4 linked regions of the Homo sapiens genome follow. The protein of the gene in region 1 interacts with the protein of each later gene in a pairwise test. Each region holds a gene or a part of one and is shown in the gene's direction. Other genes may lie near its edges.

Region 1 (8,319 bases):
AAAGAGAGCTGGAGAACTGGGATATCATGAGGAGTTGTAGACAGTTAAACCTGAATTCTAGCTTTTGGAACAAAATAGTAATGTAATTGTAGCAGTTCTCACTTTTTTATTTTTTATTTTTTTGAGACGGAGTTTCACTCCTGTTGCTTAGGCTGGAGTGCGATGGCGCAGTCTCGGCTCACTGCAACCTCCGCTTCCCGGGTTCAAGGGAGTCCCCTGCCTCTGCCCCCCAAATAGCTGGGATTACAGGCGTGCGCCACCATGCTCGGCTAATTTTTTGTATTTTTAATAGAGATGGGGTTTCACTATGTTGGTCAGGCTGGTCTCGAACTCCTGACCTCAGGTGATCCGCCTGCCTTGGCCTCCCAAAGTGTTGGGATTATAGGCGTGAGCCAACGCGCCTGGCCAATTCTCACTTTTGGACCATCTACTACAGGGCTGTTTGGACATACCTCCTTTAATTGTCACAGTAACCCCATGACGTAATTGGTTGTGCCTGGTCATACAGGTAAGAAAACTGAGGCTTAGAGAGGTTTAGAATTTTGCTGAAGGTCATACTAGTGAGTAGAAGGCAAAGTAGGCTTCAGGCTTAGAACTGTCAGATTCCAAAGGCAGTATTTTTTGTCCATCTGTTGTCTGTTTCGATTCAATGCTTTCAAAGAGATACAAATTCAAATTTAAAATAATTTAAATTGTTGAATATGGCTTACATTTTAAAGCTTTGCATAGGTTTTATTGGCATAAAAATAATGTTCTTTTGCAGCTAGTTTGCTGGTGTTTTATTCTCTAGAGACCAACAGCTAGGGCTTAGTGTTTATCTGATGAGTTTTAGTTTATGCATTCAGTTTTGCTCCAGGATATAAATAGTGAAATGTTGAATTAAGTTATGGAGTGGTGTGAAATTCAGCATGCTAAGGCAATCAAACAGAAGTCTTCTGAGCCATTTGAGAAGCAGCTTGATGTCCTTGTTCTTAGAACAGGGCTGTCCAATCTTTAGACTTTCTTGGGCCACATTGGAAGAAGGCCATACATAAAATACACTAACCCTAATGATAGCTGATGCACTAAAAAATAAAATTGCAAAAAAATCTCATAACGTTTTAAGAAAGTTTACAAATTTGTGTTGGGCTGCATTCAAAGCTGACCTGGGCTGGGGCCATGAGTTGGACAAGCTTGTTCTAGAATATTTTCGGCAAATTTTGGTAAGGGGGAAAATAAGTAATAGTAATAATAGTAGTAAATAGTAATAATTGCTGTCAAAGCAGCTACCATTTATCGAGTTCTAGTAACTGTGAGGCACCATGCCAACTACTTACATATTATTTCACCCAATTTTCCGAACATCCTGTCAAGTAGGTGGTGGGAATTTTCGTTTTATAGATCAGGCTTGGAAACGTGACTTGTCCGATTGAGTCAGGATCTGAACATAGGTCTTTTAACTCTAAAGCTTATACCCAAACACTGGGTTCTGTGAAATTTCAAAAGCATATGATAGGCTGACTGCAGTGGCTCATACCTGTAATCCCAGAACTTTGGGAGGCTGAGATGGAAGAATCCCTTGAGCCCAGGAGTTCGAGACCAGCTTGGGCAACATAGTGAAACCTCGTCTCTACAAAAACAAAACAAAATGTGATCAAAATCATACTTCATGATTTTTGGTTTCTAAAGATACTCTCTAAATTTCTCTCCCCAATTTAAAAACGAAAGCAGAGCACTGTTGGAAGGTTCAAATAGGTAGATTAATTTAGGTTGGTTTTTTTGTTTTGGTATAGTTGAAGATAATTCAGGTTATTGTTTACATGTTTACATTTATCAAAATAATACATGTACATAGATTGAAAGACCAAATAGGCTGAGCGTGGTGGCTCAAGCTTTTGGAGGCCAGCACTTTTGGAGGCTGAGGCGGGTGGATCCCCTGAGGTCAGGAGTTTGAGACCAGCCTGACCAACGTGGTAAAATCCCGTCTGTACTAAAAGTACAAAAATCAGCTGTGCGTGGTGGTGGGCGCCTGTAATCCCAGCTACTTGGGAGGCTGAGGCAGGAGAATCGCTTGAACCTGGAAGGCGATGGGTGCAGTGAGCCAAGATCGCGCCACTATACTCCAGCCTGGGCAACAAGAGCGAAACTCTGTCTCAAAACAAACAAACAAAAAAAACAACCAAATAGTGCTTTAAACCTTAGAATAAAAAAAAATATATCAATCTCTTGTCCACCCCCTTTTTAAACTATAGACAACTATTTTCACCTTTTTTTGGCACTTTTTAAAATAGTATTTTGGCTGGGTGTGGTGGCTCACACCTGTAATTCCAGCACTTTGGGATGCCAAGGCAAGTGGATCATGAGGTCAGGAGATCGAGACCATCCTGGCTGACACGGTGAAACCCTGTCTCTACTAAAAATACAAAAAAATTACCTGGGTGTGGTGGCGGTTGCCTGTAGTCCCAGCTATTCGGGAGGCTGAGGCAGGAGAATGGCATGAACCTGGGAGGTGGAGGTTGCAGAGAGCTGAGATCGCGCCACTGCCCTCCAGCCTGGGTGACAGAGTGAGACTCCGTCTCAAAAAAAAAAAATAGTATTTTATCTTTGTGGATATGGTAAAATTGCTATTGATTTACATGTAATCTTTTGACTTTTGATCATAGAAGACTTTTGCTGCCTTGTAAAACTCTTCAATCCACCAGTGAGTCAAAAACTTGTAGGAAATTTGTCAGTTACTTTTTTTCCTCCCCTGTAGTACTCGGTCCTGCTCCAGTCTGGACTGTTTTTTTTTTTTTTTTTCCTCCCCAGTCCTTCTGCACAGCTGCCTTTCTGGGAATTTCCTCCCCTGCCAGTTGAAGACCGAATCCTACTCTGTCGCCCAGGCTGGAGTGCAGTGACATGATCATTCATGGCTTACTGTGCTTCTACCTTCTGGGCTCAAGCGATCTTCCTACCTCAGTCTCCCGAGTAGGTGGGACTACAGGCGTGCACCACTATGTGCAGCTAACTTCTTATTTTTTTGTTGAGAATGTCTCACTGTGTTGCTGGGTTGGTCTCAAACTCCTGGGCTGAAGCGATTCTCCCACCTTGGCTTCCCAAAGTGTTGGGATTATGCTCAAGAGCCACCATGCCTGGCCTTGATTAATGATTTGACTGGGTGTGGAATTCTGGCTTGGAAATAATTTTCCGTTAGCATTTTGAAGGTATTGCTCTAGATGTCCTGTGTCTTGCTGATTGTTGATCCTTTATATATGCTTTTTTCTTTGGGAAGTTTTTAGGTTCTCTTCTTTGTCCTTGATGTTATGAAATTTCAGTCATCCTACCTATGGAGAATCTTTTAAAATTCATCATGCTGGACAGTCATTGGATCTTTTGAATCTAGAAATGTGTTATCCTGTTGCAGGAAATGGTTTTATAGTATTATTTCTCTGCTCTTTTCTCTGTGGTTTATTTATGAAATTCTCCTATAAGCAGAATTTTTTTTTTTGAGACGGAGTCTCGCTGTGATGCCCAGGCTGGAATGCAGTGGTGGGATCTCAGCTCACTGCAACCTCCGTCTCCCGGGTTCAAGTGATTCTCCTGCCTCAGCCTGCTCAGTAGCTGGGACTACAAGTGCGTGCCACCATGCCTGGCTAATTTTTGTATTTTTAGTAGAGATGGGGTTTCACCATACTGGCCAGGCTCGTCTTGAACTCCTGACCCCAAGTGATCTACCCACCTCAGCCTCCCAAAGTGCTGTGATTAACAGGTATGAGCCACTGTGCCCAGCCAGCAGAATATTTTATATTCCAGGCTCATCCTCTAATTTTTTTCCATCTCTTGGTCTTTTTTTTTTTTTTTTTTAGCTCTTCATTTCAGAGAGATTTCTTCCATCTTGATCTTTCCAACTCTTGTATTGAATTTTTAATTTTGGTTATTATTTTTAATTGAGAGCTCTGAATATTTCTTTTTATTCTTGTTTTTTTTTTTTTTGAGATGGAGTCTCACTCCAGTCACCCAGGCTGGAGTGCAGTGGCACTATCTCGGCTCACTGCAAGCTCCGCCTCCCGGGTTCACGCCATTCTCCTGCCTCAGCCTCCTGAGTAGCTGGGACTACAGGAGCCTGCCACCACGCCCAACTAATTTTTGTATTTTTAGTAGAGACGGGGTTTCACCATGTTGGCCAGGCTGGTCTCGAACTCCTGACCTCAAGTGATCTACTCTCCTCGGCCTCCTAAAGTGTTGGGATTATAGGCGTGAGCCACTGTGGCCAGCTGTAAAGTAATATTTTTAAAGTTTTCTTTTGTACCCAGCATTGTCTCTGATTCTTGAGGTTTTTTTCTTGAAAATTTTATTTTCTTTAATCTCTATCTTTTATGGTCTAGATTTTTCTCCAGTGTCTGATTGTGGTACTGTGAAATGTTTATTTTGTCTTTGACCTCATTTCCTGCCTTACAACTCCTATTTAATACAATCCTTAAAAATCTCCAAAATGATGTCTTTTTGTATGCTAATGATTGATTGATGGCCTGCAGACTCCCTTCAGGATGGGAGCTGGTCATCTGAAACACCTATGCGACTTTAGAGGGTTGGAACTTTCATGTCTGCCCCCCAACCTTCCAGGAAGGAGAGAGGGGTTCAAGGTGATGTTGATCACCAGTGGCTGTTGGTTTAATCAATCATGCTAATGTAATGAGGCCTCCATAAAAACCCAAAAGGATTGGGTTTGGGGAGCCTCCAGAATAGCCGAACACCTGGAGGTTCCTGGAGGGAGGGTGGTGTGCCTGGAGAGGCCTGAACACTAACACCTTGCCCTATACATCTCTTCATCTGTGTCCTTTGTAATACCCTTTATAATAAACTGGTAAATATAAGTCATTGTTTACCTGAATTTTGTGAGCTGCTCTAGCAAATTAATCAAACACAGGGAGATGGGGGAATTCTAATAGACCTAAAGAAAGAAACTAAAGCAAAAATTACTATAAATAGAGAGTTTATTTAGGCCAGATTTGAGGACAGCAACCTGGGAAGCATAGATTCAAGTTGCTCTGAATATATGCTTTGAGTAGCAACAGTTAGAAGTGGGATTTTAAAGGGCAAAAATAGGGGCAGTTTCTAAGTTGAACATAAACTATTGGTTGGCTGTATATTGTTCTTTGTACCACACATTCCAGGAACATGAAGAAAATGATTGAGGGTCACATTGTGTAACTTGTAGTAACAGTCTTGGTAATTTATCAGCTTGTCTGGAAACTACAGGAAAGGGAAGATTAAAAAAACCCCAAGTCCCTTTAAACAGTTAACCCTGAGCGTGGCTGGGGCTGTGGTAACTAAAGACCCATTTTCTAAATTTTGCCGGCTTTATGTTCTTCAGATTGCTCTGAGCTACTTTTCTTTCTCACTGACTTAAAGCTAGTTGATCACATGTTCCAGAGGCCCTGACTTGTGGCTGGTGTCTGAAGGGTGGGCAGTCTTGTGGGACTGAGCCCTCAACCTGTGGGATCTGATGCTATCTCCAGGTAGATAGTGTGACAGTTGAATTGCAGGACACCTAGTTGGTGTTCGCTGAAGAATTTTTTTTTTTTTTTGAGACCGGGTCTCACTCCTGCCCAGGTTGGAATGTAGTGGTGTGATCACGGCTCACTGCAACCTCCCCATCCCAGGCTCAAGTGGTCCTCTTACCTCAGCCCCCCAGTAGCTGGGACTACAGGTGTGTGCCACCATGCCCCGCTGATTTTTGTATGGATGAGGTTTCACCATGTTGCCTAGGCTAGTCTCAAACTCCTGAGCTCAAGTGGTCCCCTGACCTTCTCCTCCTAAAATGTTGGGATTACAGATGCGCAACACTGTGCATGGGCCTGCTGCATAATTGATTTCTTGCTTGGTATGTGGGGAGAAACCCTCACACATTTGGTCACAGAAGTCTTCTATGTTGATTGTTGTGACGTGAGAGCAGAGGAAAAACAGTATTTTTTTCTACTCAGACTGATGATACTTGCTCTGTATTCCTATTTAAGAGAGGTACTGAAAAGCTGATTGGAAGTCTGTGTGTTTGCTTCAAGTCTGTCTCTTGGTGAGCTTCTCTGGAGGGTGTTAGGCAAAGTTTGGCTTTTTCATTACAGAACACCCAGTTGTCAGTATCAGTGAGCCTTTCCTCTTGGGACTATGCCTTTGCTCTGAGCTAGAGTCTGAGAAGTAAGGAAGAAGATGGAGAATTTGACTTTCACGGACTATATTCTTCTAAGTGTGGCCTGCGACTTTAAGCTGTGTGTAGTGTGGCCACGCCCAGTCTCCAGAGGCATCATCTTCAGGATCAGGGAGGGTCCCTGTCTGCTTGGGTAGGGTGCCTAGTGACCCCTTTGAAGACTTTCCATTAATTCTTCTGATTTCTCCCCACCTCTAGAATTCTCTCTTACCCCCAATTTCTGAGTCTGTTTTTATGTGGCAGGAGTTGGCTTGCTGTGTTTTGGCTTCTGTTAGCACATAACAAAGTAGAGGTGGCCATATTTTATGTTAGTTGACACTTGTCTGTTTGTCTTAGAACTTTCAAAATGTTGTGTCTCGTCTGCTTTTGTCTGCTGCTGTTCTCTGTGGATTTATGCCTTGTTTTCTCCTTAACTCTCATTTTAGTTGCATTTCAGGAGGGAGTGGCCCAGGCTGGAGTGCAGTGGCGTGATCTCAGCTCACTGCAAGCTCCGCCTCCTGGGTTCGCACCATTCTCCTGCCTCAGCCTCCCGAGTAGCTGGGACTACAGGCGCCCGCCCCCACGCCCGGCTAATTTTTGTATTTTTAGTAGAGACGGGGTTTCATCGTGTTAGCCAGGATGGTCTCCATCTCCTGACCTCGTGATCCACCCTCCTCAGCCTCCCAAAGTGCTGGGATTACAGGCGTGAGCCATGGCCCATCCCTGCCCTGGAGACATTTTGCCCATTGTCTTGGTGATTAACATTGGACTTCTTGTTACTTATGCAAATTTCTGCAGCAGGCTTGAATTTCTCCCCAGAAAATGGGTTTTTCTTTTCTGTTGCATCATCAGTTGGCAAATTTTCCAAACTTTTATGCTCTGCTTCTTCTTGAAGGCTTTGCTGCTTAGAAATTTCTTTTACTAGATACCCTAAATCATCTCTCTCAAGTTCAAACTTCCACAGATCTCTAGGACAGGGACAAAATACCACCAGTCTCTTTACATAACAATAGTGACCTTTACTCCAGTTCCCAACTAGTTCCTCATCTCCATCTGAGACCAGTGCAGCCTGGACCTTATTGTCCATATCACTATCAGCATTTTGGTCAAAGCCACTCAGCAAGTCTCTAGGAAGTTCCAAACTTTCCCACATCTTTCTGTCTTCTTCTGAGCCCTCCAAACTGTTCCAACCTCTGCCTTTTACCTGTTTCCAAAGTTGCTTCCACATTTTCAGTTATCTTTTCAGTAGCATTCCGCTGTACTGGTACCAGTTTACTGTATTAGTCTGTTCTCACGCTGCTAATAAAGATATACCCAAGACTGGGTGATTTATAAAGGAAGGAGGTTTAGTTGACTCACAGTTCCACATGGCTGGGGAGTTCTCACAATCATGGTGGAAGGCAAATGAGGAACAAAGTCATGTCTTACATGGTGGCAGGCAAGAGAACTTGTGCGGGGAACTCCCATTTATAAAACTGTCAGATCTTGTGAGACTTATTCACTACCATGAGAACAGTATGGGGGAAACTGTCCCCATGATTCAGTTATCTCCACCTGGCCTCACTGTTGACATGTGGGGATTATTACAATTCAAGGTGAGATTTGGGTAGGAATAAAGCCAAACCATTATCAGAAAGTATGTCTTTTTTTTTTTTTTTTTTTTTTTTTTTTTTTGAGATGGAGTCTGGCTCTTTTGCCAGGCTAGAGTGCAGTGGCATGATCTTGACTCACTGCAGTCTCCGCCTCCCGGGATCAAGTGATTCTTCTGCCTCAGCCTCCCGAGTAGCTGGGACTACAGGCATGCGCCACCATGCCCAGCTAATTTTTAATATTTTTAGTAGAGACGGGGTTTCACCATATTGGCCAGGATGGTCTCGATCTCTTGATCTCGTGATCCACCTGCCTCAGTCTCCCAAAATGCCGGGATTACAGGCGTGAGCTACTGCGCCCTCCAGAAGGTATGTCTTTTCTTTAACACATTCTACTGTAATATATCTCATTTTAATCATCTTATACCCAGGGTACCTTTCAGCCTTAGTTGGTTGTAATAGACTGTAATTTTTACTTTGAATTTTACACTTGTGTCACAATTTAGCCATTAGATTCTCTTTCTTCAGCTGAGTGGCTTCTTGATGCTTTCTGAAGGCACTCTTGAAAGCATCTGTGCTTTTTGATAA
Region 2 (8,242 bases), on another chromosome or scaffold:
GCTACTTGGGAGGCGGAGGCAGGAGAAAGGCGTGAATCCGGGAGGCGGAGCTTGCCGCGAGCCGAGATCGCGCCACTGCACTCCAGCATGGGCGACAGAGTGAGACTCTGTCTCAAAAAAAAAAAAAAAAAAAAAGATGGGGATGTCCTTTGCAGTCACAGGATGTGAAATTAGTTTTAGTTTCAGAGTCAATGTCTCAGAGTCAAGCTGGGTGGATAAGGTGAATGATATCCTTTGTGTGAGGGACGGGGAGGGAAAGGCTAGTTCTGTTGCATCCAGGTCCCAATAACAGTAATCAGTGAGGTTTTAGGGCTTTGATGTTCTTATTTTCTCTGATCCTAGGTTCTTGGTAGGACTTCTTGCTTAATAAATGATAATGTAATAAAAGTAACCAGCACAGTGTCCCTGACACAGAAAAGGCAGATGTTTTTGAAAATGAATTTAACAAGAAATTGAGGCCTGGAGAAGTGACACAGCTTGTACAGGGTCACAGAGCTAACACGTGGTCTCTGGTCTTCCTTTTCATAAAGCTAATCTTTTTTTTTCCTTTTTTTTGAGACAGAATTTTGCTCTTGTTGCTCAGGCTGGAGTGCAATGGTACGATCTCAGCTCACTGCAACCTCCGCCTCCCAGGTTCAAGCAATTCTCCTGCCTCAGCCTCCCGAGTAGCTAGGATTACAGGCATACACTACCATGCCAGGCTAATTTTGGGTTTTTAGTAGAGACAGGCCTTCTCCATGTTGGTCAGGCTGGTCTTGAACTCCCGACTTCAAGTGATCCACCTGCCTCGGCCTCACAAAGTGCTGGGATTACGGATGTGAGCCACTGCGCCCGACCTCATAAAGTTAATCTTCTTTTTTTTTTTTTGAGAGGAATCTTGCTCTGTTGCCAGGCTGGAGTGCACTGGCTCGATCTTGGCTCACTGCAACCTCCGACTCCCGGGTTCAGGTGATTCCCCTGCCTCAGCCTCTGGAGTAGCTGGGACTACAGGTGCGCACCACAGGTGCACCACCACACCTAGCTAGTTTTTGTATTTTTAGTAGAGACGGGGTTTCACCATGTTGGCCAGGATGGTCTCAATCTCTTGACCTTGTGATCCGCCTACCTTGGCCTCCCAAAGTGCTTGGCCACCGCGCTGGGCCAAGTTAATCTTATAATTACGTAAGTTATATACCAGTGCCTTCTCCAAGTAAAAAGCGAAAACGTTAGACTGCAGTCCCTTTGGGCCAGCAACCCCAATCACAAACCTCTTTCCCACCCCTCAGAGCCAGCCACTGTTATCAAGTTTGTATATTCCTTTCAGAATCCTTTTCTCCTGATCTGTCATTTTTTTTCTTTTTGAGGCGGACTTTTGCGCTTGTCACCCAGGCTGGAGGGCAATGGCATGATCTCAGCTTACTGCAACCTCCGCCTTCCAGGTTCAAGTGATTCTCCTGCCTCAGCCTCCCGGGTAGCTGGGATGACAGGCACCCGCCACCATGCCTGGCTAATTTTTGTATTTTTAGTAGAGACGGGGTTTCACCATGTTGGCCAGGCTGGTCTTGAACTCTGGACCTCAGGTGATCCGCCCGCCTTGGCCTCCCAAAGTGTTGGGATTACAGGCATGAGCCACCATGCCTGGCCTGATCTGTCCATTAAGTCTTTGACTCTCAAGGGTGGTTTTTATCTCTGATGCTCCCACACATTTCTATAAAGCAGCAGGGCAAACAGGAGGAAGACGAACAGACAAGACACAATCCTAGCTCATTGTCAAAAGAGGTGAGATAAGATACACCTACACATGAATGGTGATGATGATAAGTTCTGTTTTTTTTTTGTTTTTTTTTTTTTGAGATGGAGTCTCACTCTGCCTCCCAGGCTGGAGTGCAGTGGCACAATTTTGGATCACGACAACCTCTGCCTCCTGGGTTCAAGTGATTCTCCTGCCTCAGCTTCCCAAGTAGCTGGGATTACAGGCGCCCGCCACCACGCCCGGCTAATTTTTTGTATTTTTTTAGTAAAGACAGGGTTTCACCATGTTGGCCAGGCTGGTCACAAACTCCTGACCTCAGGTGATCCACCCACCTTGGCCTCCCAAAGTGCTGGGATTACATGCGTGAGCCATCACGCCCGGCCCAGTTCTGTTTGTTAAAGGCACAGTTTAAGCATTCTTTGTTTTTTTTTTTGTTTGAGACAGAGTCTTGCTCTGTCGAACAGCCTGGAGTGCAGTGGTGCTATCTTGGCTCACTGCAACCTCCACCTCCTGTGTTCAAGTGATTCTCCTACCTCAGCCTCCTGAGTAGCTGGGATTACAGGCGTGTGCCACCACGCCAGGCTATTTTTTTTTTTTTTTTTTGAGACGGAGTCTTGCTCTGTCGCTCAGGCTGGAGTGCAGTGGCGCGATCTCGACCCACTGCAAACTCCGCACGCCATTCTCCTGCCTCAGCCTCCCGAGTAGCTGGGACTACAGGCGCCCGCCACCACGCCCGGCTAATTTTTTTGTATTTTTAGTAGAGACTGGGTTTCACCGTGTTAGCCAGGATGGTCTCGATCTCCTGACCTCGTGATCGGCCCGCCTTGGCCTCCCAAAGTGTTGGGATTACAGGCGTGAGCCACCGCGCCCGGACATTTTTTTGTATTTTTAACAGAGACGGGGTTTCACCGTGTTGGTCAGGCTGGTCTCAAACTCCGTATCTTGTGATCCGCCCTCCTCCGGCTCCCAAAGTGCTGAGATTACAGGTGTGAGCCACCACGCCCGGCAGCATTCTTTAATTCAGATGAATAACAAAGGCTTTATTTGAACTAGATAGGGCTGTTTAAGATGTCAATTGTTTTACTTAATAACTAGCAAATTAGTAATTAGCATAGTGCCCTGTACAAAGTTCAGTATAAGCTAATTTCCCCTTTCTACCTTACTTAGACCTTTTGGGCCCGATGGGTAGAGTGTGAAAATGATTACTGATACTTACTGAGGGTTTATTATGTGTCAAGCAGGCATTTTACATAATCTCATTTAATTTTCACAAGCCGGTGAAGTGTTATTACAGAGGAAAGCTCCAATTGAGATAAGGCATGCCGGGACTGCAAAGTCCTTGTATGTAACTAGCTTGGGATAAAACAGGCCAGTAAGTAGACCTTGAGAGCTTGTTTAGAGGACCTTGAGAGCTTGTTAACACGGGCGTGCAGCTACTCCTATATCCTTGACTTGTCCTCTTCTATGGGGGATGCTCCTCCTTTTCGACCGAATATGCAGCTTCGGGAGGGACGCACATGGAGAGGTGCGGGAGGAAGGGGCCACCCGCCTAGACAGCCAGATCAGCCGAATCAGCCCTGGCGATCTATGGGGTGACAAGATAGCCAGAACGCCCTCACATCCAAACAGGCCAGTAAATGGAAAATACTTTAAAACACCATGCTACAATTATAAACCATCATCTTATTTATTCGTAATTCTTGGAGTTGACAACAGGTCAGATCCTATTGAGAGGAGGTCATTAATTTTCTAAAGACAGAAAACCTGGGTCTCTTCGGTCAACAAACAACTCTAAGGTTCTTTTTTTAAATCCTTAAATAGGGAAAATCCTGGACTCAAGGAGTTGATTATATGATATAACAGAAATAAACGGCTGACTTGGAGTAGGCGTTCAGTAGATTCTAGTCTTTTCACCCAGAAGGGGCTTGGGAGGGCAAAAGTAAAACCGCACTGAAAAAGACTAAAAGTGGGCGCACCTTCCGCCTTGCCGAGGCTCTCGCTGCTAGCCGTTGGCGTTTTCCCGCGCAGGGGGCAGGGCGCAGAGCGAGCCCAGGAACGTGGGAGCGGAACCCCACCCCCCGCCAGGACTACACCTCCCAGCAGGCACCACGCTCCGCCACATGGCGGGCGGCATCCAATGGTATTAGTCCTTCAAGCCAGCTTAGTCCGCTTTCCGTCCCGGCCTTCCCTCGGCTCTAAGGTCTCTAGGGGGTTCGTCTAGAAGCCCGCTGGAGAAAGGCTGCGGTAGGGGTCGCCTTGGCTGTGCAGCATGTTGGGAGTCGTGGTCCCCTCGTGCAACATTTGGGAGGCCAGGCTTGCCCTGAGTGGTTGGACCACATCACGTGATGAGCACAGGGCGGCCACAGGGGAGTAACCTGTGGTGCTTTGTGAGGTCATCACGGCGCGACGACGAGCTGCAGTTGTGGGCACCTTGTATGCGGTGGGTAATACTCTCCTGATGACTCCGAGTACAATACATATTATCAAGTCTCCCTTATTTGTTCCTTTCTGTGGTCCCCACCTCCACGCGGTTGGCTTCGCGGGGTTGGGGTGGAGGTGGTGGCTGGAAGAGGCCGCGCGCCGCCTAGGCTGACTCTGAAGCCGCGCACGAGCGACGTGTTGTGGCTCCTCCTTCGCCCGTGACGCGAGGTCACGTGACGGGTTGGGCAGCCTGTGCCGCCGCCGCCGCTTTGTAAGAGGCACATTGGCAGGTAACGAGCGGCGGCGGCGGCAGCGGGTCTTGGGTCCTCCGAGAGCAGCAGCGGTAATTGCCATCCTCTCCCTCTCCTTCCCTCTTCCAGGGCCCTGAGCGCTGCAGCGTGTGCTTTCTAATTCTGGGTTCAGCTCGTCTGAAACCCCACCGCCTGCAGACTGCCCCGGCGCCCACCCGTGAGGACCGGGCCGAGCTTCACTCGCCAGGTCCACGGTCCCTCTACGTCCAGGCCCGGGCTCCCTCCTTCCTCTTCCCCTCACGTTGCCCTGTGCTTCTTCCTACTTTCCCCCGTCCAGGTCGGCTGGGCCCCACCCAGCCCCAGGGGTGCCTCCCCTCCCCCCTTTCGGGTTTCTGCCCTGGAGGGTGTGGTTTTCTCTCCCACCTCGGTGCCTGCCAGTAGACTGGAGCTTCCCCGCCACGCTGTCGGTCCCATCTCATCACCTTTCCGCTTTCACGCCCGTAGCTAGTCTTGGGACTGGCCCTGTTATAGCCCCAACTTATGCGCTCTCTAACCTTTCCTGGCTTACCCGGAGTCACAGTTCAGTTCTACTTCTTTTCAATTCTGTAGGGCATTGGTCTCAATTGGGACTCAGTTTTCCTCCACACCCGCCGTTCCTGTAGTCTGGTTATATCACAGTTCATTATTTAATGTAGGTTTTTGAGCGCTTTGTAAACGGCAAAGCTCTCTCTGTTAATAATACATACTCAAAATGTTATTCTTTCATTGGTGCATTACAACTCAGTTGTTTGCCTCTGAATCACTTTCCCACTCGGCTTTTCCACATTTTCCCCTGAGTTTTTAGTCTAATTAGTTGCCCACGCATCTCAACTGTCACCACTCTGGTCTCTAATGCTTGCTCGCTTTAGGGGTTGATCCCATCATTATTACTGTTATTTCCTGTTTGATGTAATCCAGTCATTTACTACCACTTCTATTGGATATTGTTTTTACCTCACATTCAAGGAAGGTATATGGTTTGCCAGTATTTAGGCTTATTGTCTTTCTACAGCACCAGTGTATCCTAACAGTTGAGAGATTTTAAAAAATTACTATTAATTTTAGAGATATGGTCTCCATATGTTGCCCAGGCTGGCCTCCAGCTCCTGGGTTTAAGCGATTCTTTCACCTCAGCCTCCTGAGTATCTGGGATTACAGTGTGCACCACGGTGCTCAGCTAGTTGAGGGTTTTTTCAGGTCTCCATAAGGTATCCAAAGATTATCTTTTATTTGAAGGGCATATAATTTCTTGGGTGAACCCAGTTCTTATATTCCTCTTCCGTTGTGACAGCACTTTTTTCAACAAGGGGTATGCGACTAGTTATTGCATTCCTCACTTTTCACTGTGAATTGTGTATCCGTTTTAGTGCCAGTTTGTGAAAGGTGGAAGGAAGTTGAACATGATACCTAAGCTCTCCCGTATCCTACATTGGTGTGTTCCCCTTTTACCTCAGGAAAGGGAATGTATTCCACTCCCTGGAGATGATAGTTTCCTTCAATACACTCACCTGTGGAGCCCCTTCGCTAGGGTTGTCCTTCCATTGCTTTGAAGGCTTCTCTTATCATTAGGCAGAAGTGATTAGTTTCCCAAACTGCCCTTTTGCTTGCTGCCAGCATACTCCTGATTTTCCTACTTATGGCTAGTTGATACGTGTGACGAGAGATTTTCCCACAGCGCTGATTTCCCCCATTTGCTTCCCTGTTGCCTCTCACCCTCAATAATTATGAAACCTTTCAGAGAAGGAAGGTTTTTGTTGTGATTGAAATATGCCCGAAAGTGGTGGCATGGGAGAGAATGAGGCCATGGGAAAGGGTTGTGGTAATTGCCTCTCTTGCCTGTTTCCTGCTGCTCTGGTTTCCTCTGTCCTCCCTTTAAATGTGGGCTGGATCAGCAGTAGTCACATGGAGTTGCCTTTAGAACTATATTGGAACAACAATAACACCTCTGCTTCCCTTTCCTGGTTACTAGTGCAGTCTATGTAGTGATCACCAGGAGTGTCTCTCTTAGTATTAGCCTGAGTGACTTTTATTGTATGGGGAGAAATGGTGTGATGGTGTGAGAACATGTAGACTAATAGGTTTATTTCAATATGTACTTGTATTGTGATGGGAACTGGTCCCGGTATCTACCCTCTTAAGTATAAAATATGTGTAGAAAGTACAAACCTTTCTTGAAGGTTTGGAGTGGTCTGAAGTGAAGCCTTCTTTTTTTTTTTTTTTTTTTTTTTTTTTTTGAGATGGAGTCTTGTTCTGTCGCCCAGGCTGGAGTGCAGTGGCCTGATCTCGGCTCACTGCAAGCTCCGCCTCCCGGGTTCACGCCATTCTCCTGGCTCAGCCTCCCGAGTAGCTGGCACTACAGGCACCCACCACCACGCCCGGCTAATTTTTTGTATTTTTCAGTAGAGATGGGGTTTCACTGTGTTAGCCGGGATGGTCTTGATCTCCTGACCCCGTGATCCGCCTGCCTCCCAAAGTGCTGGGATTGCAGGCGTGAGCCACCCCGCCCGGCATGAAGCCTTTACTTCTAAAATGTTAGCTTTGAATTGTTGATTTCCCAGTCCTCTTTTTTTTTTTTTTAAATGATGATTTATTGTTAAGATTTCCTTTGTTAATAAGACACTTTGTGGGGTTGGGGGGTGGGGGTGGTTAAGTATATTAGCAAGGGTTAATGCCTGCTCTAAAGAAGCAGTCTGCAGGCATTTACAGATTGTAAAGTTCTCTGCCCTTAAGCACATCTGTCTTTATTTTTCCTTGTGAGAAACCTGTATGTCAGCAAATACCCGTTCATTCTTAGTTGTTATTTTGAGTAAATGGAGCTCTTAGTTGTTATTTTGAGTAAATGGAGCGTTCTTAAAAGCTAAGTGTTATGGTACCCATGGTGTTGACTGGTAAGTTAGTAGATCTCTGATAGATTTTAGAAGCAGCCGTTTTTTCCAAAGAGTGGAGATACAACCTGAAGGAAGGCAAAGAGAGGGAGGACATGTAGGGAATATCACCATGTAATCTTTGTGGTAGATTTTGAAGTAATTTTGCCCCAACTATCAAGTATTTAGGAATAGGATCCTTTTTTTACTAACTCAAAGAATCAAATTTATCAGATTAGTTTTTACAATTTTAATGTAAACCACTTATGCTGATATTTCCTGCTGAGTTTACTTGACATTTTTTAAGTTTCTCAAAGATGCTCCTTAAAAATTTTCTTTTGTGACTGGGCACTGTGGCTCATGTCTGTAATCCCAGCACTTTGGGAGGCGGAGGCGGGCGGGTCACGAGGTCGGGAGTTCGAGACTAACCTAACCAACATGGTGAAACCCCGTCTCTACTAAAAATACAAAAATGAGCCTGGTGTGGTGGCGCGTGCCTGTAGTCCCAGCTGCTCCAGAGGCTGAGGCGGTAGAATTGCTTGAACCTGGGAGGTGGAGGTTGCTGTGAGCCATGTGCCATTGGACTTCATCCAGCCTGGATGGAGCAAGACTCCGTCTCAAAAAAAAATTTTTTTTTTAATTTTTATTTTTTTCTACCCTTTTTTTTTTTTGAAGACAGTCTCACTGTTGCCCAAATTGGAGTGCAGTGGTGCAATCTCGGCTCACTTCAAGCTCCGCCTTCTGGGTTCATGCCATTTTCCTGCCTCAGCCTCCCGAGTACCTGGGACTACTGGCGCCTGCCGCCACGCCCGGCTAATTTTTTGTATTTTTATTAGAGACGGGGTTTCACAGTGTTAGCCAGATGGTCTTGATCTCCTAACCTCGTGATCCGCCCGCCTCGGCCTCCCAAAGTGCTGGGATTACAGGGGTGAGCC
Region 3 (6,307 bases), on another chromosome or scaffold:
ACTCTACACTTCCTCCAAGGACCAGGACACATGCCTCCTCCTCCATAAAATCTTCCTTCTCAGTCCACAGGCAGGGATGAGCTCCCTCATACTGTGTGTTCCTTCTGCAATTTTTTTTTTTTTTGAGAAGGATTTTCATTCTTGTTGCCCAGGCTGGGGTGCTATGGCACGGTCTTGGCTCACTGCAACCTTTGCCTCCCGGATTCAAGCGATTCTTCTGCCTCAGCCTCCTGAGTAGCTGGGAGCTACAGGCGCCCACCACCAAGCCTGGGTAATTTTTGTATTTTTAGTAAAGACGGTGTTTTACCACGTTGGCCAGGCTGGTCTCGAACTCCTGCCCTCAGGTGATCCACCCACCTCGGCCTCCCAAAGTGCTGGGATTACAGGCGTGAGCTACCAAGCCCAGCTGCATTTTGTTTAACATGATAACTCAGCTGGTTTTTTACATAACAGAGACAAATTCTCTTTGACCTTTGTATTCCCGGGTGTGGGTGATGGTAAGTGCTCAGTAAACGTTTATGGATGGCACTAATGAAAGTCCTGCCCATGGCCCTGCCTTGTGGCAGTGTGGAAAGCCACCACGTGGCCTTCTCAGCCTTCAGGACACAGTGGATCTGTGAATCAGGAACTGCCTGATGGGGTATGACCCAAATCAGGAACAGACCGAGTCTCAGGGCCTGAATCTTAGCAATTGTCCTCAGTCCTTGGGAGAGACTAATTTGAGTTTGATTCTTTGCTTCCCCAGTGACATGCAAGATGATTTTATCTCTCCATGTGGGGCCTGCAGGCAAGTCATGAGAGAGGTAAGCAGCTTCTCTTGCTGTCTGGAATGCAAATATCTTCCCTGTCGCAGGCTATGGGAGCCACGCCAAGTTGCAGGCATGGCAGGCATGGCAGGCGTGGAGACACAGCTACTGTCCTGTTTGCTTGGTTGGCTGACTTCTAAGGCCTCCCTACGCTTGCATGAGTCACTGGAAATTATTCCTTCATTTAACAAATACTTACCGAGTGAGTGTCTGCTTTGTGCCAGGCCCTGAGGTAGCTCTGGGGAGGCACAGGGAAAAGATGGGCCAGGCCCTGCCCTCACAGAGCTCATAGGCTAATGCAGGAGACAGATGATAAACAAGGAGCAAAATAAATAAACAAACAGTGGCGTTTCTGAGTCAAGAGGGCTATAGAGGAAAACAAAATGCAGAAAAAAAAAAGGAGTCCAGTGACAAACGGGCAAACAGGGGACACTGCAGATTGGGGTCAGCAAACAACAGCCCTTGGGCCAAATCCAGCCTGCTGCTTGTATTTGTAAATAAAGTTTTATGGGTATACAGCCATGGCCATTCATTCACCTATTGTCCATAGCCACTTTGCCCTGACACAGCAGAGGTGAGCCATTACGACAAAGGCCACATGGCCTCTAAACCTAAGATATTTACTGTCTGGTCCTTGACAGAAAAAGGTTTGCCAACCCCTGCTTTAGATATCCAGGAAGGCCCTCTTTTTGAGCATGACATTTGAGCAGAAATATAAATAATGAGGAAAAAAATGAGACAGACAAAGGTCAAAAAAGGAGATTCAGAACCAGCAAGTTCAGACCCTTGGTGAATTTGAGAAGAGGCAAGAAGGCCACGAGGGCTAGAGAGCTAGGGCCTGGTAGGTGGAAGGAAAGCAATGGGATTGAAGTCAGAGGGGTGGGCAGAGGCCAGATCACATGGGGCCTGGCCATGGAACGAAGGGTACATTTTATTCCAAGAATAAAGGAAACTGAAGTGTACACTTTTTTTTTTTTGAGACGGAGTCTCACTCTGTCACCCAGGCTGGAGTGCAGTGGTAGAGTCTCAGCTCACTGCAACCTCCGCCTCCTGGGTTCAAGCAATTCTCCTGCCTCAGCCTCCCGAGTAGCTGGGACTACAGGCGCCAGCTACCATGCCCGGCTAATTTTTGTATTTTTAGTAGAGACTGGGTTTCACCATGTTGGCCAGGATGGTCTTGAACTCCTGACCTTGTTATCTGCCCACCTCGGCCTCCCAAAGTGCTGGGATTACAGGCGTGAGCCACCGCGCCCAGCCTGGAGTGTACACTTAAACATGGTTAAAATGGCAAATCTTACATTATATATATTTTATCACATTATATACATTGGGAAAAAAGGGAATAAAGGTAAGCCATTGGATATTTTCAAGAAGAAACTTGAAGGACTTTTTATAAAAGTCCTCTTGATGGAAGGCTGCAATTTCTTCAACTCTAAAAACAAAACGGTAAGCCAGGTATGGTGGCTCAGCCTGTAATCCCAGCAATTAGGGAGGCAGAGGCAGGAGGATCGCTTGGGTCCAGGAGTTCGAGACCTGCCTGGGCAACATAGCGAGACCCTGTTCTCCACAAAAAAAAAAAAAAAGGAATAAAACAAAACAAAAAAATGAAAACGAAGGGATAGTTTAGATCATGGGTTCTTAATCCAGGCTCAGGGGAAGGTTTTCATGTTTATATGTACGTTTGGGGAAAGGGGAATGTCAGTAACTATTGTGGATTCTCAAAGAGATCTGTGTCCTCTAGAGTCCCAAAAGATTAGAGAATCCCACAGGCCCTGAGCTCCAGCATAATATCAAGAGCCCCTCGAAATACGGCATCTTGTGGGCATGATGGCTTACACCTGTAAGCCCTGCACTTTGGGAGACTGAGGCAGGAGGATCACCTTAGCCCAGGAATTCAAAACCAGCCTGGGCCACATAGTAAAACCCGGTCCCTTCAAACAATTTAAAAATTAGCAAGGCATAGTGTGCACGCCTGTGGTCCTAGCTGCTCCAGAGGCTGAGGTAGGAGGATCACTAGAGCCTAGGAGGTCAAGGCTGCAGTGAGCTGTGATCAAGCCACTGCACTCCTGCCTGGGTGACAGAGCGAGATCCGGTCTCAAAAATAAATACATACCTACAGCATCTTGTTTAATCCCCTCCCCAAGACTGAGTGAAATGCATGTCGTTATTCCCATTTCCCAGTGACCACTCTGAGGCTCAGAGGAGTAAAATGACTTACTGAAGGGCCCCCTGCCAGGCGGTGACATATGGGTATCCATGGCCCATCAGGCTGACTCTGAAGCCCGTGCTCCTCACGGCTGCCTCTCTGTCTTTGTGGTTCTGTAAGTTGGACAAAATTATTTTCAACCATGGAGGAAACATAATGGTACTTTGGCATGTGGATGCTGCTTGTACCGTGGGAGTTTCTGCTTTTGGAGTTGTGTTTTGGGAGAAAGGGGGTTGTTTTAGCTTTGTTTTTGTGCCGTGGGGTTTCAAAGCATCTGGGGATGCAGACACTTCCATCTTCCTCCTGCTTCCTGCCAGGAGTGCAAATCAGACACATTTCCCAAATCCAAAAACATACCACCGGGAAAGCAGTGAATTTACACGGTGGAATTTGTCTCACTTGAGAGGGGCAGAAATAGCTGCCCTGCACGGTGGAAATGTCGAAGGTCATATAAGGAAGCCACAACAGGGCGCCAAGTCCCTGGCTCCCAAGGCCCCGACGTGGTCCAATTGCTCAGTGCTGTTTTCTCCAAACAGATTGGATGTTGGCAAACGAGAGAAGGCAAATGAAAAAGCTGAAGGAGGCAGGGGGGAAACTGAAACCAAATGCAAATGATAAGAGATGAGGCGTTGGGGCCAGGGACCTGACACGTAAACTCGCCCTCGGCTCAACTTTTGTCTGTACCTACCCTTAGGCACAGCCTGTCAAGCAGAAAAATTTCCTTCCTTAAAACATTAATTCTAAAAAAGCCAGAAGATTGAGTGTGCCCGGGAATAACTTGGTGATTCAGAGAGAAGTGTGGAAGAACAGGAGGCTGCAGACCTGAGCAGTCACTGGCTACCAACATAATCAATAAGAATGGCATCTATTAATTGAACACCTACTATGTGCATAGAGATGCTTTACATGAATCATCTCTGCATCTCAGAATACCTGGCCAGAAAGAGCTTAGGTCTGTTGACCCCACCTCCAGGGCTCTTGTCATGACACCGCTGCTGATTAACCTCTTGCCTACCATCCTGCATTCTCCCATCCCTAAAACCATTCCATGGACCAAGACACTGAGTGAGCCCCAGAAAGTTATCATTTTCCCAAGGTCACACAGCAAACAAACAGTGCTCCTCATAGTATAGGAGAAAGATCAAGAGACAAATTTTTCTTTGCTGACTTTACTCTGCTAAGCCTCAGTTTCCTCATCAGTAAAATGGGCATCATGATAGCACCTACCTCACAGGGTAGATTATGAAACCACGCATGTGCAGTATCTATGTGGTGTGGTTTGGCTGTGTCCCCACTCAAATCTCATCTTGAATTGTAGCTCCCATAATTCCCACATGTCATGGGAGGGACCTGGTGGGAGGCAATTGAATCATGGGGGCGGGTCTTTCCCACGCTGTTCTCGTGATAGTGAATAAGTCTCATGAGATCTGATGGTTTTATAAATGGGGGTTCCCTCACACAAGTCCTCTCTTGCCTGTTGCCAGGTAAGACATCCCTTTGCTCTTCCTTCCTCTTCCGCCATGGTTGTGAGGCTTCCCCAGCCATGTGGAACTGTGAGTCCATTAAACCTCCTTTTTTATTTTATTTTATTTTTTTTTTTTTTTGAGACCGAGTCTCGCTCTATGGCCAAGGCTGGACTGCAGTGGTGTGATCTTGGCTCACTGCAACCTCTGCCTCCCGGGTTCCAGAGATTCTCCTGCCTCAAGCCTTCTGAGTAGCTGGGATTACATGTGCTTGCCACCACGCCTGGCTAATTTTTGTATTTTTAGGAGAGATGAAGTTTCACCATGTTGGCCAGGCTCATCTCGAACTCCTGACCTCAGGAGATCCGCCTGCCTCGGCCTCCCAAAAGTGCTGGGAGTACAGGCGTGCGCCACAACACCCGGCCTAAACCTCTTTTCTTTATAAATTACCCGGTCTCAAGTATGTCTTTATTAGCAGCTTGAGAACAGACTAATACACTGAGTATATGTAGCAGGCTTGCAGCTTCTCCTGGTGTGAGGTGTAAAGGGGATACTGAAGGGAAGCGGGTGTTAGTTGTCATTTGTCATAGCAGAAGGAGGTTCCAGGGGTTAGCTGTTGCTCTTATAAAGCCCTGGGTGAGTCTTGAATGGTGCCTGTTCACGATGTACCATGCACTGTTCAGTTTCACAGCATTCTTTCGTTTCCTCCTCCCTGCAGCACTATGATCCAGGTACAATTATGGTCATTCCCCTTTTACAGATGAGAAAATCAAGGTAAAGAGAGGAACATTAGACAGTGGCAGAGTCAGACTCAGACCCAGTCCGTCTCAGCCCCCTCAGCCACGCTGTGTCTCTCACGCCAGCTTTGCCTCTTTTCCAGTTTGGCACCAACTGGCCCGTGTACATGACCAAGCCGGATGGTACGTATATTGTCATGACGGTCCAGGAGCTGCTGCCCTCCTCCTTTGGGCCTGAGGACCTGCAGAAGACCCAGTGACAGCCAGAGAATGCCCACTGCCTGTAACAGCCACCTGGAGAACTTCATAAAGATGTCTCACAGCCCTGGGGACACCTGCCCAGTGGGCCCCAGCCCTACAGGGACTGGGCAAAGATGATGTTTCCAGATTACACTCCAGCCTGAGTCAGCACCCCTCCTAGCAACCTGCCTTGGGACTTAGAACACCGCCGCCCCCTGCCCCACCTTTCCTTTCCTTCCTGTGGGCCCTCTTTCAAAGTCCAGCCTAGTCTGGACTGCTTCCCCATCAGCCTTCCCAAGGTTCTATCCTGTTCCGAGCAACTTTTCTAATTATAAACATCACAGAACATCCTGGATCAAAGCGTGTGTCTTGCTCTGTCTCTATCCTTGCTTGCAGCTCTTAGGAGGGACAGCATGATTTGTCTTTATAGGAAGAGCTGGACTCTTTCTGTTCGGAGAGGAAATGGGTACCTTGGAACCATGGACCTTATGGTGTGGAGAGCTGAGGTTTTAGGCAACTTGCCCCAGCGTTCTCTAAACGGGCAGCTCCCCTGGGCTGGACCTAACTGCCAATAACCATCCTAGAGTGTGTTTTTGTCTCATCATAGACCTGAGCACCAGGAGACTCCAGAGTATAAAGGGTCAAGCACGGTTTGTCTAGACAGTGTAACAAAGGGTTTTCTCAGTAGCTACTGTATGTCAGGTAATTTGTGTGCATCATTTTAAGTTTAACATGCTCCACAGTTCTGTGAGGAGGGTGTGGAGATGCCCCCTTTTCACAGATGAGAGCACTGGGCTTTGGAGAAGTTGAATACCCTGCTCTAGGACAATGGCAAACCTCAGAACAGAATCCAGG
Region 4 (8,876 bases), on another chromosome or scaffold:
GTTCCTTTCATCTTAAAATTTGTGATTTAAAAAACATTGATATTACTATAAAGAATTATTATTATTTCCCTTGATTTACAGAGTATTGTTACAATCACATTTGAAGTACCAGGAAATGCAAAGGAAGAACATCTTAATATGTTTATTCAGGTGAATGCAATTTTTAACTGATTAATGATTTATCAATGGTTTTGTTACATAGTTGTTGCTATTAGCGATGGTTGGTCTTATTAAAATATGTCACTTGATACAGAATCTTCTGTGGGAAAAGAATGTGAGAAACAAGGACAATCACTGCATGGAGGTCATAAGGCTGAAGGTACAGTTTACTGTTGCAGACTTTTGGACAAAGTCCTTTTCTTGGCTGTTATAAAAACTATATTTGGTTTTAAACAGAAACACTGGTTTTAGTACAAATCATCTTTGTCTACTTTCATTTTTCTTTATTATTTTCATGACTGAAAAGGAGCTTTGGAAATCACTGCATAAGGCTTGATTTATTTGCACAACTTTCTTTAGGGTTGCAGCTAGAACAAACCTGTGTGCTTTGAAATGTTACCTTCTGCTCTCTGTTCCCAAGTACAGAGAAATAATGTTGCAAATCTCACTTCTGCTGAACATTATGCTTCCTGATGCATTTAGCAGACACTAAACATTTGTTGTACTCTAAACAAAGTTACAAAGGACTAGAAGAATTCTTGTTCTGTATTTAGAAACCCACTCACATTACTTGATATTTGGGTATTTAAGTCATGAAAGGTATTTCTTCTAGGAAGCAGTGATTCTAAAGTGTATGCTTAACCAGTCAGTTGAGTGTCTACTCTTGTGTGTTCACAAGTGTGCACAAAGTTTTTGGTAAATTAAGAATATTATTTCAAATAAATTAATTTCATCCCCATAGGAGCCAGTTTATCAGATAATTCGTTTCTCATTTCTGCAAATCAATACACAATGAGCTCATATTCAGATAAATTGAGCTCATATCCAGATAAATATAATAGTTTTTCTTTATTTCAACATTGTTCATTGATTGCAACCCATTTCTAAAACAAATTATTTAATATAACAAAACTCCTTTAACTTCTCAACTTTTCCCACTAAAACTGTGAAACATTATATAAAATCTTTAATCAATAGGATATGATACATATTTCATCATTTTGTTTCAGGTTTTGGTTGTGATAAATAACACTGAAAAACCATCCTAATATATGTATTAACTTTATCATTAGAAAAGGGGATTGTTCAAAAAAAAATCAATACACAGAAACCTTTTTTGAAAATTAAAAACATTAAGAAACTTCTTGTAATTCACAAATAATTGGAATTAAGTAATTTTCTCAGCTTAAGAGTTTGTATTTTTTAAGTGAATATCAGTAATTAATCCATTAACATTGATGCTCTATTTCTGCTTTTAAGTTTGAACTGAGGCTGATTAATGTTCAGTCAATTCTCCTTTGAGCAGGGATTGGTGTCAATCAAAGACAAATCACAACAAGTGATTGTCCAGGGTGTCCATGAGCTCTATGATCTGGAGGAGACTCCAGTGAGCTGGAAGGATGACACTGAGAGAACAAATCGATTGGTCCTCATTGGTAAGTCTCAAAGGATTCACAGTTTTGAAACAAAGTGAAAAATATATTTGAAAGGGATATCATGTGCCACTTAAACAGATTAACCATTCAGGTCCTCTTTTAAAACTAAATAAGCTTGTGGTCAATGTTTCATCTTTGTCACATTACAACGTTCGTAAAAGCTTGTTAGGACTTTTGTTCTTCTTCAATTTTAGAAAAGTGGTTAATCCAAGGACCAATGTGACTTTGATGTACTGACCTGGAAAGTTAAAGATGGAATCACTCAATTACTATTCTTTTTGTAAATTTTTAAACACCATAAAGCATTTAATGAACTGGAATTGATAGGTGAACTGTGTCATTTTAATAAGCATAATGTAATCACGTCATATTTTGTTTTGTTTGCAGGCAGAAATTTAGATAAGGATATCCTTAAACAGCTGTTTATAGCTACTGTGACAGAAACAGAAAAGCAGTGGACAACACATTTCAAAGAAGATCAAGTTTGTACATAACACTAGAGGCATTTCTTATCAAAAGGATTGGATAATAAAAATAAGTTTCTACTGGGTATATTTCAAGCATTTATTTATTACTTTAGTTACGAATTCCAATATACTTTAAAATGGTATTTGTTTTACAGCATACATAAAATGTAGCAAATCAGTACTGTAAAACATTTAACATTCATACAATTATATATAATATCCTTTTTTTTAAAGAATGGTATTTCACAAAAATATCTTTTGAAATTGGCTTTGGAGTTTACATATACTGAACATGAAAGTTTATAATAATGATGATACAACTTTCAACATTGTCATTTTTTCTTAGAACTTCAGCTGATTGCAGAGATATAATGATTACATTGTTATTAAATTTTTTTAACACAAGTAAGTGTCACCATTTTATGACATGAAATAAAAGGTTATGACTGTTATTGATGTTGATGTTGACGACCTGATCACCTGGCTGAAGGAGTGTTTGTCAGGTTTCTCCATTGTAAAGTTACTCTTTTCCCCCATTTCATACTGTGCTCTTTGGAAGGAAATCACTATGCACAGCCCACACTAAAGGAATGGGGAGTTGTAGTGTACTTTCTTGGGAGTGGTCTACATAATTAATTGAAATTCTTCTGCGAGGGACAGTTGTCCCTTTCGCTTTATTAGTTCGATCATTTATGTTTATCAGTGTGGACACATGAATATTTTATACTTTGGGTTACAATTTAATACTACTTTATTTTGTTGCTCAAATTATCCCAGCTTTGACCATTGGGAACTCTTTCCGTTATCTCCTGTTCCCCCCTTTGACATACCCCCATCAATGTGGGTTTTGTGTTTTGTTTTTGAGCGCCTCCTTATTTTTCTCCTGTATTTTTAAATAACCCCAATCCCTATTGAAGCTGGCTCTAGGAAAACTAACAATACTCCCTTTCCCAGGTCATCCGATTCCTATGCTGATGGAGGAAATTTGCCTCACATGCTGGGGGGCGCTGGGGAGGAGGTGTCTGGGATTATGTGGTTGAATAAGACACCTGGCCTGGCCCTCCTGGAGCTTAGTTTAGTAGGTCACACAAGCAGTCATTGGTAAATTTGGGATTCAAACAAATCTGTTAGGCTCAAACCTGTCTGTTATTTGTCCTCCAAGCTTCATATAAACTGAGGAGCCTTAAAGGGTAAAAACTTCAGGAGCAGCAAAGTTTCAAAAAAAGATCAGCAAGAAAGCTCTTTTCCAGATTTTATCCTGAAGGCACTAGCTACTTTAAGCTATTTTTTATTATATTTTGCCCTTGCAGTTGGCGTTTGATTTCTCACTGAACATTCATTGTCATAATTATAGACACTATGTGACTATCAAGGGCATAATATTCTTTCATGCTGCATTTTTATTAGATGGCACCTCAAAGTTTTCCCAAGTAGGTGGGTTTTAAATTATGAATATATACCGTGGCATAGTATCTTACTTAGTATTTTAATAAGATTCTTATTTATATAACAAATTTTTTTTATTCCTCTGTAGTGCTACTTTAGTCTCTGAGCTAATTTTCATGAAGCCAATCTAAAAATCGTGTTATTTCTAAGGATGTGGAGCGAGTGAGATGAACAGTTGTGCTGTCATATTGCCCCTCCCCAGTGCAGATAGTGAATGAGGACCCACTGATTTAAAGGCAACACTGCAGCCCCTTCTTGCCTCATTGAAGTCCCAAGTTTTATTACAGTAAAAGCACTTAATGTTGACATTTCTGAAAGAATGAAGAGGCTGGGCATGGCGGCTCACGCCGGTAATCCCAGCACTTTGGGAGGCTGAGGCAAGCGGATCATGAGGTCAGGACATCGAGACCATCCTGGCTAACACGGTGAAACCCCGTCTCTACTAAAAATACAAAAAATTAGCCAGGCGTGGTGGCGAGCGCCTGTAGTCCCATCTACTTGGGAGGCTGAGGCAGGAGAATGGCGTGAACCCAGGAGGCGGAGCTTGCAGTGAGCTGAGATCGCCCCACTGCACTCCAGCCTGGGCGACAGAGCGACTCCGTCTCAAAAAAAAAAAAAAAAAAAAAAAAAAAAAAAAGAATGAAGAGCCAGAGCCAGGCATAGTGGCACGCCTGTAGTCCCACCTACTCAGGAGGCTGAGGCGGGAGGATCACTTGAGCCCAGGAATTCAAAGCCAGCCTGCGCAACATAGACCCTGTCTCTAAAAATGAATTGGTTATAAAGGATGAAGAAAGGAAGGAGGAAAGGGAGAGAGAGAAGCCCTTATAGAGTGGGTGCATTTCTTGTATGTGGGGCCACTTTGTAAGAACAGGATTTTTCAAACTGGGCCCATACTGGTATGTGTGAAATCAATTTAGTTGGTTATGGCCATTTTTTTTTAAAAGGAAATATCAGTGATCACTATAGTGTAAGTATATTGTTTCGTGAAACCCATCTTAGTTATGTATTATGTCTGTATGTGTGAGATTGTGATATAAAATGTATTTCTGTGGTTAAATATTCAAAGAAATTGGAGAACCATTGCTACAAGGGGACAGAGGACTCCGTGTGAGCTCTCCTGCCTTCCCTGAGTAAACTTACACAATTTAGTGCTGGGACATTTGAGCCTTTTCTGAAAATTTGAGTCAGGGAGAGCATCTTGAGGAGGTGGGAAGGAAGGTAGAAGGAGCAAAGCAACACCCCCCTGAAGCCTGGGAATATTGTCAGAACCTTAAATATAATTCAGCTCACCATTCTGGGTAAGGACAGACTCTACCAATGAAAATGGGTGATTACCAGCTGTGAAACACAAAAACATACTTTTACGGTTACACATTCCTTTACAAACAACCGTGTACATTTCAGCCTCCTGCCCCACCATTTCTTTTCTCCAGGCGGGAAGGCTGCATGTTGAGGTGGTCATAGAATGTTGAGTATCATACTTTCCTACCTCGCTTTTATTTGCGCGGGTTTAAATGCGCCTTAACAGAACCCGTGCAAAGGCTTGCCAACTGTCTGGCTGCACCGGATGAGTAGAGCATCTTCCTTGGTGGCAGGTGGGTGCGAGGAGGAGGGGGCTGGGCTTTTCTCCGGACGGGTGTTTGCCCAGAAGACCATCATCCCTGGACTACGTTAGGAGGAAGTGGCACCGCTCCGAGGTAGGGGAAGAAGGGTTATAAAGGGGGGAGTCCACCACACATGGTCTTGAAGAAGCTTTTATAAAAGGCAAAGGCATCTTTGCCGGACGTTGTTGCAAAGGAGTAGAAACAAGCAGACGAAAACATCCCAAAGGGTAACCACTAGCGTTCCTGCTTCTTGCAACATTCATCCCAGGCTTCCAGCTCAGCCCGCCCCAGGCCAGGTGATCGGCCGCCACATCCCCTGCGACTGAAGCACCTGCTCCTCCATGAACCTGCCAAGAGCTGAGCGCCTTCGCTCCACACCGCAGCGCAGCCTCCGGGACTCCGATGGGGAAGACGGTAAAATCGATGTCCTGGGAGAGGAGGAAGATGAAGACGAGGTGGAAGACGAGGAGGAGGCGGCGAGCCAGCAGTTCCTAGAGCAGTCGCTCCAGCCGGGGCTGCAGGTGGCCCGGTGGGGCGGGGTTGCGCTTCCCCGAGAGCACATCGAGGGCGGCGGCGGCCCGAGCGACCCCTCAGAGTTTGGCACCAAGTTCAGGGCACCGCCAAGGTCTGCGGCGGCCTCTGAAGATGCCCGGCAGCCGGCAAAGCCCCCCTACTCGTACATCGCGCTCATCACCATGGCCATCCTGCAAAACCCGCACAAGCGCCTCACGCTCAGCGGCATCTGCGCCTTCATTAGTGGCCGCTTCCCCTACTACCGCCGCAAGTTCCCCGCCTGGCAGAACAGCATCCGCCACAACCTCTCGCTGAACGACTGCTTCGTTAAGATCCCCCGCGAGCCGGGCCACCCAGGCAAGGGCAACTACTGGAGCCTGGACCCCGCCTCCCAAGACATGTTCGACAATGGCAGCTTTCTCCGGCGTAGGAAGCGTTTCAAGCGCCACCAACTGACCCCGGGAGCCCACCTGCCCCACCCCTTCCCTCTACCTGCTGCACACGCCGCCCTGCACAACCCCCGCCCAGGCCCTCTGCTTGGGGCCCCTGCCCCGCCGCAGCCAGTCCCGGGGGCCTACCCCAACACCGCCCCCGGGAGACGCCCTTACGCTCTGCTGCACCCGCATCCTCTTCGCTACCTACTGCTCTCGGCCCCCGTCTATGCCGGGGCACCGAAGAAAGCAGAAGGCGCGGCCCTGGCGACCCCGGCACCCTTCCCGTGCTGCAGCCCTCACTTGGTCCTCAGCCTTGGGAGGAGGGCAAGGGTCTGGCGTCGCCACCGGGAGGCGGATGCATCTCTTTCAGCATTGAGAGTATTATGCAAGGGGTCAGGGGAGCGGGTACAGGGGCTGCGCAGAATTTGTCCCCGACCGCGTGGAGCTACTGCCACCTGCTCCAGCGACCATCAAGCCTGTTGCATCCCCAGACCGCTGCCCCTTTGCTGCAAGTGTCCGCCGCCGCCGCTGCTCGGACAATTTTGCAGCAATAGCAGCAGCATCAGGAGGAGGACTGCGCCAACGGCTGCGCTCCCACCAAGGGCGCGGTGCTGGGCGGGCACCTGTCGGCCTCGTCGGCCCTGCTGAGGTATCAGGCAGTGGCAGAGGGCTCTAGGCTGACATCGCTGGCTGCCCCTTTGGGCGGAGAGGGGACCTCACCAGTTTTTTTAGTATCGCCCACGCCCAGTTCCCTGGCCAACTCCGCAGGGCCCTCCTAGAGCCAGGTGGGAGTGGGGAGCGACCCGCAGCTGCTCACTCCACCTTGCGCGGCCCATACTGGGCGTGTGCATCTGAATCCCGCTGGAGAGCAAACACGAACTTCTGTTCGCTGCAAAATGGTTAGAAAGAAACAGCTGGATTACGTTCCTCTAAAAACCACCTGAACGTAACCTTCGCAGGGCGTCAAGTCATCTTTTCTTGCCTTCGGTTGTGGCTTCTATGGCTGTCCCGATTTGCGCATTTCCTGGGGTACTATGAACGTGAGTGGGGTATTTTGTTCTGGCATTAAAAGAAAAACAAGCAAGCAAACAAAAACACAGCCTCCGATGCCAAACATGTTCCCCCTTCTTCACTTCCTTGGAGCTGGAAGTATTATTCCTAAGTCTAGTGCAAAATGCTTCTACTCTCTGTGTCTTCCTGATAGGGATGTTTAATGTAAGTAGGATATTAATTTCAGAACATTGATTTCTTATCTGTGTGTCTGACGTGCCATCTTTAATGTTAAAATTAAGGTGTTAAAATTAAGCCTAGTTATATAGACGAAATAAAATGCTAAGTCACTACACTACATCGTTTATTTTCTATTACATCTCATTCTTCCCTTTCTAAATGGAACTTTTTAAAACCTACGTTATTTTCCCTCAAACAATTTATTTTCACAATTCATATTTATTATAGATAGCAGAAGTAATCCATTTTAATATGGCCTTTAAAAATTCCAAATATTTGAGGTTGAAAATGTCCTGGCTTTTAAAATAGGAAATTTACTATTTATGAGACTTCTAAAAGAAAAGAATAGGAGGGCATGTAAATATATTCTCCATTTATTTTTCATCACCCCTCAACAAGCTGGAAAACCATTTGAGATAAATTTGGAATGTAGTGGCCAACATGTACTCAGAGAAAATAAAAGGCTATAAATTATATATATATATATATATATATATTTTAAGCACTAGAATTTTCAAAACTTATTTCTTAAAAAAAAAAACAACTCTGAAAAGACTTTGCAACTAGAAAGGTTTAAGTGTTACTCGGCGTCAGGGGACGGAGTGGGGGGAAACCAGACAAGAACGCCCATCATGAATTGCTCCCCACAAAGAAAACAAATTTCTAGGAACTTGGCCGTTTTCCCCTGTCCTGAGTGGGGTTCCCGATTCCGTGCCGCTTTGAGGGAAGCTGCTCCGTGAATGTGAGAAAGTTTTTCCCCCAGCCCCCATCTACTCCCCACCCCCAGCTATGAATTTCTTATTTCAGGAGGGAGGACAAACATGGAGACACACATTTTTACAGGAGTCTAATTGGCCGATTTTTCTCCGGCTTCTCTTCTCCATCCCGTCTCTTGGAATTTCTTGGCACGCCCTACCTGAGATCCCCTACGGGAGATTTCCTCTTGGCTCCTGCGGTTCTGAGGACGTTCTGAAAAGTTCCCAAGCCCCACCTTTGGTAGCTGCCCAGACCCCAGCTTCCAATTCTTCCCTCTTCTTTGCACAGGTAGCCGTCAGCCCCATAGCACCACCAGCGTCCAAAATAGACCACTTTTAGCAAATCCGGCAGGGCTGGGGCAGTCTAAGAGTTTGGAAACAAACTGAGAATAGAGGGGTCCTATTTCATGCCAGGTTCTCGCTGGTTTACATTCCAACTCCCCTCTGTCCGTTGTGCGAAAACGTCTCCAGGCCGACCTTCATTCATTTATTGTCAACAAACGTCCTGGGAGAGCGGCTACAGCCGGCCGCTGAACCCAGAAGGGACTTTCTCTAGGCTTTCTTGGCACCCTCCCAATTATCTTCCTTCTCTTGCCCGAGGGCAGACCAACACAGCTACGAACATGGGTGACTGAGGGTCAGACCCCTTCCCGGAACCGCCTCCAAGCTCCTAATTTTTGCCTAATGTTAAACCATATCCAAAGATGAATATTTAAACAATCAATTCAGTGGCGGAGTAAATTAAACGTTATTCTCCGATCAAACAGGAGCTTCGGGTCCACCTGTTTGGAAGCACCCAGGCAGCTTGGAGAGGTCCGGCCTTCGGGTGCGA

Evidence for each region.
Region 2: the proteins of PLEKHB2 (region 1) and UBAP2 interact in binary tests that used the Homo sapiens proteins (3 or more experiments, as listed by UniProt).
Region 3: the proteins of PLEKHB2 (region 1) and CDA interact in binary tests that used the Homo sapiens proteins (3 or more experiments, as listed by UniProt).
Region 4: the proteins of PLEKHB2 (region 1) and FOXD4L3 interact in binary tests that used the Homo sapiens proteins (3 or more experiments, as listed by UniProt).

Annotation. Positions count from the first base shown.
Region 1 is NC_000002.12:131,107,557-131,115,875, forward strand, and holds part of PLEKHB2 (pleckstrin homology domain-containing family B member 2), read left to right. Parts: intron 1-8,319. UniProt on the Homo sapiens protein: Involved in retrograde transport of recycling endosomes.
Region 2 is NC_000009.12:34,045,079-34,053,320, reverse strand, and holds the start of UBAP2 (ubiquitin-associated protein 2), read left to right. Parts: upstream 1-4,433; 5' UTR 4,434-4,496; intron 4,497-8,242. UniProt on the Homo sapiens protein: Recruits the ubiquitination machinery to RNA polymerase II for polyubiquitination, removal and degradation, when the transcription-coupled nucleotide excision repair (TC-NER) machinery fails to resolve DNA damage. May promote the degradation of ANXA2.
Region 3 is NC_000001.11:20,613,097-20,619,403, forward strand, and holds the end of CDA (cytidine deaminase), read left to right. Parts: intron 1-745; coding exon 746-803; intron 804-5,355; coding exon 5,356-5,472; 3' UTR 5,473-5,807; downstream 5,808-6,307. UniProt on the Homo sapiens protein: This enzyme scavenges exogenous and endogenous cytidine and 2'-deoxycytidine for UMP synthesis.
Region 4 is NC_000009.12:68,297,499-68,306,374, forward strand, and holds FOXD4L3 (forkhead box protein D4-like 3), read left to right. Parts: upstream 1-5,368; 5' UTR 5,369-5,453; coding exon 5,454-6,707; 3' UTR 6,708-7,586; downstream 7,587-8,876. Other genes in the region: ZNG1C (zinc-regulated GTPase metalloprotein activator 1C), read left to right, coding at 82-150, 254-319, 1,466-1,595, 1,983-2,089.